Regions from separate parts of the Homo sapiens genome. Here regions 2 and 3 are each linked to region 1. The links come from fine-mapping of genetic effects on gene expression. A gene starts in region 1. Each other region holds a variant in brackets. All regions are shown on one strand. Distances are from middle to middle.

Region 1 (2,763 bases):
TACTACTGTAGGTCTTATCTTTAGGCTTGTGGATGCTTAATAAGAACACTGAGATGATCTAAGAGTGCAGGACATTTAATTAAAAAAAAATTTTTTTTAAGAGACAGAGTTTTGCTCTGTTGCCCAGGTTGGGGTGCAGTGGTGAGATGGCAGCTCACTGCAGCCTCAAACTCCTGGGCTCAAGCAATTCTCCCAGATTCTCCCACCTCAGCTTCCTAGGTAGCTGAGACCACAGACGAGCCACCGGCCCAGCTAATTTTTGCATTTCTTGTAAAGAAGGGGTCTTACTGTGTTGCCTCGTCTCCATGAGGCTGGTCTCGAACTCCTGGACTCAATCGATCCTCCCACCTCAGCCTCCCACAGTGCTGGGATTACAAATCTGAGCCACCACACCTACCAGCAGAAACTTTTTTTCAAGAGGAGACTTTGGATTTCAAGGTGACCTCCCCCACCCCGCCCACAGTAATATCTGTGACCCAGTGCACAACACAAGTGCCTATGACTGAATAAAATATTTCACTAAATATTTATTTCACTATTCGAGATGTGCCTGGTATCTCTATTTCTTTCTTTCTTTTTTTTCTTTTTTTGGAGACAGAGGAGTGATCTCGGCTCACTGCAACCTCCGCCTCGCAGGTTCAAGCGATTTTCCTGCCTCAGCCTCCTGAGTAGCTGGAATTAGAGGCGCTCGCCACGACGCCCAGCTAATTTTTGTATTTTTAGTAGAGACGGGGTTTCGCCATGTTGTCCAGGCTGGTCTTGAACTCCTGACCTCAGGTGATCCGCCCGCCTCGGCCACCCAAAGTGCTGGGATTACAGACGTGAGCCACTGTGCCTGGCCATCTAACTCTATTTCACAGAAAACTGGAACCACCACACGCACCTGTACCCCTTCCAAGTAGAAACCAGCTAATTTGGTTTTACGAATCACTAAAGGCCGACTGAAAACGCTCTTCTAGCAGTCTTCGCTGCTACTCCATCTATCACAGCCCATCCGAAAAGCGGCGGTAGCAGCTGGGAAGGCCGCGGCCGGAGGCTGTCACAGAGCAGCACTCGCGCTTCGGCCCGCAAGATGGAGCGTTTCCCTCCAGGGAAGCAGCGCCGCACCTATCCACAGCCCCCACTCGGTGGATGATGCAGGACTCGGCCCATTTCCCTGCCCTCCAGCTTTCTCAACGTCAGCCCCGCCCCCTTATCTTTCCTCGGCGAGTTTAGTTTCGCCCCGCCAAGTGGGCAGAGCGCCGAACGATCGATGCTTTCTTCCGCGCCCCGAGAGCCGCCATTTTTGAGAGCGGGGGAGGAGAGACAAGCAGGGGCGGCAGAGGCTCAACGGGATGCTGACTGGGTTTTGCTTTTCGTCCCAGCCTTGTGGGGCCGGGACGGAAGAACCCATCAAAGCCCTTCCTCCCGCCGCCTCTCCGGAATGAGGTCTCAGCACCCGCGCGGGACAGCACCCTTCCTCCTGCGACAGTGAGTGGCGACCCGTGGCGCGACTGCCGGGCGCCCGCGCGCGCCCCCGCGCGCTCCTTCGCTGTCAGTTACCCCGCGCGCCTCCGCCCCTCTCCCGCCGGCCCCGCGCTCGGCGCAGACTCGTTTGTTTGTTTCTGCAGGAGCCCAAGAAGAGGCCGAAACCGAGACCATGCCAGGGAAGCTGAAGGTGAAAATCGTGGCCGGGCGCCATTTGCCAGTGATGGACCGTGCTAGTGACCTGACTGATGCCTTCGTGGAGGTTGGTGCAGGGTCCTGCCCCTCAAAACACAGGGAGCGCCAAGCCCTGTGAAGGATCTACCCACCTCGCCCCCAGCCCCTCAGCCTATTCCCCCCTCGACTGCCCTCCCTTCGGCCGTGGTTGTCCAGCTCTCCCACGAGGGATGACCGCCGAGACCTCAGTGTGTGCGATGGGTGCACGGCTTGCAGGCGTCCGCGGCACAGTCCGCTGCGCGGGGAGGCTTGTACTGTTGTGCATGCGGGGGTGACCCTGATGTCAGGACTCATTAACAGGCCACCTGCCACTCAGGAGATCCCAAGGCGTGGCCGCGCAGCCACCGACACACTCACACACATACACACACACACACACAAATGCCGGAATGACTCTGATGTCAGGACTCATTAACAGGCCACCTGCCACTCAGGAGATCCCAAGGTGTGGCCCCGCAGCCACTGAAACACACACACACACAGGCACACACACACCCTTGGAAGGGGTGGCCAGAGTGCTGGACATCATGTTTAAGAAGGTGCATGAAGCCCTTTATGGGCACTTGGAGTCCCACAGTGCGAGGAAATCCACTCTCATGCCTAACATTTTGTGAATCTGCCATGCACGTTCTAAAACACAACTGCAACACTTCCTGCTCTTGTATAGGCTGGTAGGTCTGATGAGGTGTTTCAGGGTAATTTAGCGCCTTGAGGTAGGAAGTCATTTAATTGCCATGGACTTAAATTGCAAAATTGCTTTTTAAGTCTAATGATTAGTTTAAAAGTCATGCAAATTAGTAAAGGCCTACGGCCGGAAGGTAATAACCCAGAGTCTGAAAGAAGCCAAGTAAAGATTGTAATAAAAATTGGCGTGATGAGCCAGAGCATTAGAGCAGCAATCATTTGGGCTATTAGTGCTTAGAATTGATGGATAGATATATCATAATATATAGCTCGATTTCATCTCAATATTCCTGATGTTTCCTAAATGTTCTCTAACCGAATAATTACAGTTCACTGCCTCCCCTGCCCATTGTCATGGTGATTCTTAATCACTTCATT
Region 2 (2,763 bases), 34 kb after region 1:
CCTTGTGTACAAAGTAAGCAGCCAAAGCATTATCATCTTTGGCTTTCCTATTCACTTGCGACTGCCATTAGTATGGTTTCTGTTTTGGGAAAAGCAAGAAGTATGAAGAATTCTCTCCATATGTGTTCAGATATGACTTAATTCTGCTAATCTGAACACTAGATTATGTCACTGACATGATCTACTTATATGATGTTTTATATTCCTTTCTTTAATATTCGTTTCTATCCCTTTGGTAAACCACCCTTAATAAATTATATGGCCTTTTTTTTTTTTTTTTCTTGAGGAAAGAGAAACTTTATTTGCCCAATCTCTTTTACGGATTATTCAAGTAGTAGTTGTCAAAATTGAAAGTGTTATTCTTTACTCCACAGAAGCATTGCTAGGTTTTCGGGAGATGAGAAATAGAGATAAAAGTTTTATTTAGATTTAAGTTCCACCTATGAATTTTTTGATGTAAAGTAAATAGATATTTAATTAATTAATTAGGAGAGAGCCTCTCTCTATGATGCCCAGGCTGGTTTCGAACTCCTGGGCTCAAGTGATCCTCCCATCTCAGCCTTTTAGAGTGCTGGGGTTAGAGGCATGAGCCACTGTGCTCAGCCAGATTTGTTTTTCAATAAGACTTTTATTTTACCTGTGAGAAAATATGGAAGTACTTTTTTAGTTCCTTCAGTCAAGAAACCTAGTGAACTTAGTTTAACCTAGTATTTCGCAAGTACATTTTACCATAGAACTTTCCTTTTAAAATACCTGTTAGTGAGGAACACATTTTGGGAAACATTGATATAAGGTAAACTCTTGAAGAATTTTGATCTTTTTAGAAGTGGGAGTAAAATTGTACAATAAACCATGGCAGAAATCTGTTATGGATTTTATATCTAGAAAGTTTAGTCTTTTGCAATAATAAAAAGAGTATTTGATTTAAAGAATAAACTATTTAAATAGCTCCTAAGAAAAATCCTATTTAAATCTCTTTTTAAAAGAATACTCCCATTGTGCTCTGATGATTTTTCAACTAACCTGTCTTTGAGCACACACTATTAAATATTTTTATGCTGCCTGCCCTTGGCTTATGTCAAAGCATCAGCATGTAACTTTATCTAGGTACCACAGGGAAAGCTACTTTAAATATGAAGACTTCTGGAGAAAATTTCTTCTGCAGTTCCTGAAATTCACATCTAGACATTGAAAG[C/T]GGGATGTGCTTGTGCTGATCTTAAGGAAGCTATTCTCTTTTTTTTTTTCATTGAGATGAAGTTCTGTTCTTCTTGCCCAGGGTGGAGGGCAATGGCATGATCTCAGCTCACTGCAACCTCCGCCTCCAGGGTTCAAGCAATTCTCCTGCCTCAGCCTCCTGAGTAGCTGGGATTACAGGCGTCCGCCACTACAACTGGCTAATTTTTGTATTTTTAGTAGAGACGGGGTTTCAGTATGTTGACCAGGCTGGTCTTGAACTCCTAACCTCAGGTGATCCACCTACCTCAGCCTCCCAAAGTGCTGGGATTACAGGCGTGAGCCACTGTGCCCGGCAGAAGCTATTCTTTTAAACAGAAGAAAAATCTATAAATTCATCAGGTGTAATAAAATCAAATCCTTAACTCTAAATGACAGTGAAACCAGATGATAAAGTTTGTTGCTTATAAAGAATCTAGGAATAAAAGGCCCTTTTGACTTCAGTTTTTCATATAAAAAATGGAGATAATAGTACTTCCCTCATATGGGAAAGGTTATACAGCACAAGCTACAGGGCCTGGCACATAGAAGTACTTGACAGTAGTTGCTAGTTATGGTGGTGATGATAGGTACTTAACAATCTGCTATAGATTTCAGCAGTAGCTCTTCTCATGAGAGAATTGTATGAAGACGGAGTTTTGGTTAAATAACAATGACATTTTTATTTATTATAGGTTAAATTTTGTGTTTTAGAGTGAATTGGTGTGCCGATTAGGTGAACTGGGGACATGTGAGGTGGAGAGTGGGTCGTGGCCTCAATGGGCAGCCATCGCCCTGTGTGTTTCTTTCTGACCAGCTCTAGTACAATGCTTGCCCTCGTTTCTTTATCCCAAACAAAGAACTTTGGGGAGAAGGGTAAAGAACCCTGAATTGAGAAGTCATTTAGGTTCATTTATTCATACTTATGTAAAATCTTATATGAAAATATTTTCTAATACATAATTTACCTATTTCTTTAGAAGGAAAAAGGAAGTACTATCTTCCATTTAGCTTACAAAAATGTTATTTTCAGTATCTCTTGTCTAGATATTTAAAAGATTTAAGGCTGGGCGCGGTGGCTCACGCCTGTAATCCCAGCACTTTGGGAGGCCGAGGCGGGTGGATCATGAGGTCAGGAGATCGAGACCATCCTGGCTAACAAGGTGAAACCCCGTCTCTACTAAAAAAATACAAAAAATTAGCCGGGCGCGGTGGCGGGCGCCTGTAGTCCCAGCTACTCGGGAGGCTGAGGCAGGAGAATGGCGTGAACCCGGGAAGCGGAGCTTGCAGTGAGCCGAGATTGCGCCACTGCAGTCCGCAGTCTGGCCTGGGCGACAGAGCGAGACTCCGTCTCAAAAAAAAAAAAAAAAGATTTAAGTATAAAGATTACATATAAAGTGATTTTTTATTCTGTGAGACCACCACATGCCTCAGATATTTTGAGGAAATATTAAAATTTAAGTGATCCTAACACTGAAAAAAAAATCTGAAAGACCTAACTACATTATTAATAATATAAGCTTACCTATACGTTTCTCATTTAAAACTCAC
Region 3 (2,763 bases), 47 kb before region 1:
ACAAAATTTAAGATACCAAATATTGAAACTTGGTACTCAAGTATTATTGTCAAACTGGTTTTGATTCAAATATATATACTCCCACCAGAAATACATTAAAATATCCACAATATATACCTTCATCAGCATTGGGCATTTTATTTCTTAGTCTCCTTTTTCAGGTAAAACTAAGAAAAATTATGTTAAAATACTGATAAATACACAATTATAATATTAGCATAAGTGGTAGTGCTGACATGTAAAGGACTAGAAAGGTCTCCCAGACAGAAGGGCCAGGATTTTACTATAAAAATAAAATTTACTTGGAACTATGTCTTAGGACCCTGCCAATTTCTTGCTGAGTTAAGACGTATGATTTACATAAATCCTGGTTACACTGAGGGGCAAAAGAGATAAGAAGTAGCCAGTTGTTAATGGGGAATATGTCAAGAGGAAGGAAAACAGAAGTAAAGGCTGTAAGAATACTTAAAATGCTTCCTTGTTTTTGAATTTTTAAAAATTTCCATTTCTAAACATAATTGATTTTACTAGAGCCCTGCTGCTGTCTTTGATTAAATGAGAAAAGATTAATTGCTAGACTCTGCACCCCACTAGATGCTTCCTGTAATATCCTGTTTTCTGTTAACTACTTAATCAATAATTTAATTAAAAATCAGTAGAATTACAAGTATGTAGGATAAAGTCACATGAGGTCCTGGAGGGGCTTTAAAATACTTTAGCAACAAAAAGAAAGAAAATAAGGGTAGCTAAAGCCCATATGACAAAATTCCAATAATTTTCAAATCTGGGTGGTACATGTATGAGGTTTCATTATGCTAGTCTTTCTGTAATACTTTTGTAAATGTTTAATATTTTTTGTAATATTTAAATCAGTAATATGATGAAGGCAATTTTGAGCTGTTTTTAAAAATAAAGTTTCTAAAACTAAAGTTTTCTATCAACAACATTATTTTTATATTACATCTTGATTTATCGATTTATGTAGAATAAATATAGATGAAAAAATATAGATGAGTTCTTGACATATAAAAAAAGTCTAACTATCCAAGGATGAAAAAATATGCATACGATAAAGATCAGATTCAAGAAATTTTAACATTAGATCTTAAGAAGTAACACCAACTTGCACTTCTTATTACAAGCAAAGAATCCAACGTGCCTTTGAATTGTTTCCAAGATTCTTCACTTGTTCTTTTCCATCTTCTGCCCCACTTTTCTTGGTCTTGTACCTCAGTCTTGGATTTAGGCTTAAACATCCTTTTTCTTCACTCTATTGTTCTCTTGTTGTTTTATTTGAATGGAAAAATGGAAAATAAGCTATGTAGGATTCAAGATAAAACAGCTCTTGCATCAAAAATATTCTTAGAAGAACTGGGACCAATACCAGGAATGGTGGTAACTAAAGAGAGAAGGGAAAAGAACTAACATGTTTTGATTGCCAAGGCAGTATCATGGACATATATGAATAGCAGGGTAAGACATTTTAAAATATTGATTAAAAGAAGCTTATTATTATTTTTCCTTTTTTTTTTTTTTTTTTTTTT[G/TG]GCAGTGTCTCAATCTATCGCCCAAGCTGGACTGCAGTGGTGCAATCATGGCCCACTGCAGCCACAACTTCCTGGGTTCAAGTGATCATCCCACCTCAGCCTCCTGAGTAGCTGAGACCACAGGTTCGCACCACCACGCCGACTAATTTTTTAATTTTTTTGTAGAGACAGGGTCTCATTATGTTGCCCAGGATGGTCTCAAACTCCCAAGCTCCAGCAATCCTCCCACCTTGGCCTTCCAAAGTGTTGGGATTACAGGCATGAGCCACTGCGCCCGGCCTATTATTTATTTCTTGAAGAGTCACTAGAGTGGCCCAATTCTTTATGCAAATGTAAGACAAGCAGGGTTCTTTGCCCTGTAATGAGGGTATAGCAAATATCTTCTATGACTCCATTGAGTCAGTCACTCACTGTGATTCTGGGAATGTGAGGCTGACTACTGGCACAAAGGTAGATCAATTTGCATGAGGAACCCAGGGCCTTCTGGGAAGGGAAAAAAATCCTAAATATTTTCTCTGGGATACACTACTCCCTCTTTCTCTGAGATGTGAAATTAGAGAATACTACTGAGCTAGAGAATGTAGGCTTTATTCATCCAAGAGCCAGTGGTAGGGACAGGCAGCATGTCTCCTGAGATTAATATAGAGAAAGGTGTTATCTGAACAGGTAACCCCAACCCTTGGCACTCAAATAATAAAATAATATAGAAGCAAGTAGAATAATAAATATACTTTTTTCCACGTAAAGAGTTAAATAATAAATATATTTGTACTTTTTTCCACATAAAGAGTTAGTTGAGGCCGAGCATGGGGGTTCATGCCTGTAATCCTAGCACTTCAGGAGGCTGAGGAGGGTAGATTGCTTGAGCCCAGGAGTTCAAGACCAGCCTGTACAACATAGGAGACCTTGTCTCTACAAAAGAAAAAAAATTTTATCCTTCCCAAGAACAAAACACAATTGTCACCTCACATTGGATTTTCCCCTCCCTAACCTTCCATTTCATGGAAATTTAGCTCTAAATTATTCTCTGTATGCCATACTTCTACTTCTTAGGAAAATTACCTATGTGTAAAATAGTGTTGTTTGCACTTAAAAAAATAATAATTTGGAGTTAGTAGAAGTGAATAAAGCAACAGGCATTCAAATCCCATACTGTCATACTGTCAGCTCCATGGCCAGACTTCCTCATCCTAAATCCTGACTTTGTTTACCCTTACCT

Which allele goes with the higher level. Positions count from the first base shown, and alleles are read on the strand shown. Sizes are in standard deviations (SD) of each study's normalised expression.
With allele T in place of C in region 2, the expression in lymphoblastoid cells of the gene that starts at base 1,248 in region 1 is higher (large effect, 0.85 SD a copy in GEUVADIS).
For the expression in lymphoblastoid cells of the gene that starts at base 1,248 in region 1, allele G in region 3 goes with a lower level than allele TG (large effect, 0.94 SD a copy in GENCORD).

The links. PIP is the estimated chance that this variant, and not a neighbour inherited with it, causes the effect. A credible set is the group of variants that fine-mapping cannot tell apart.
Region 2: its variant is the best candidate, but not a certain one, in a credible set for the expression of C2CD5 in lymphoblastoid cells (GEUVADIS, PIP 0.52).
Region 3: its variant is the best candidate, but not a certain one, in a credible set for the expression of C2CD5 in lymphoblastoid cells (GENCORD, PIP 0.64).

The regions. Positions count from the first base shown.
Region 1 is chr12:22,543,027-22,545,789 of GRCh38, reverse strand. C2CD5 (C2 calcium dependent domain containing 5) reads left to right here and starts at 1,248. Exons shown (of 27, transcript NM_001286176.2): 1 at 1,248-1,470; 2 at 1,611-1,729. The coding sequence starts at 1,640. RefSeq lists enhancers at 1,118-1,347, 2,488-2,763 and a silencer at 1,488-1,607.
Region 2 is chr12:22,508,691-22,511,453 of GRCh38, reverse strand. All of the region lies in intron 9 of C2CD5 (C2 calcium dependent domain containing 5), which reads left to right. Among named protein-coding and RNA genes, the nearest start is that of C2CD5, 34 kb to the left of the region's middle. The variant C/T (reference allele first, on the strand shown) is at 1,196.
Region 3 is chr12:22,589,711-22,592,473 of GRCh38, reverse strand. C2CD5-AS1 (C2CD5 antisense RNA 1) reads right to left here. Exons shown (of 3, transcript XR_001749044.2): 3 at 1,077-1,399. It overlaps ETNK1-DT (ETNK1 divergent transcript), which reads left to right. Exons shown (of 4, transcript NR_135030.1): 3 at 1,550-1,667. Among named protein-coding and RNA genes, the nearest start is that of C2CD5-AS1, 13 kb to the right of the region's middle. The variant G/TG (reference allele first, on the strand shown) is at 1,545.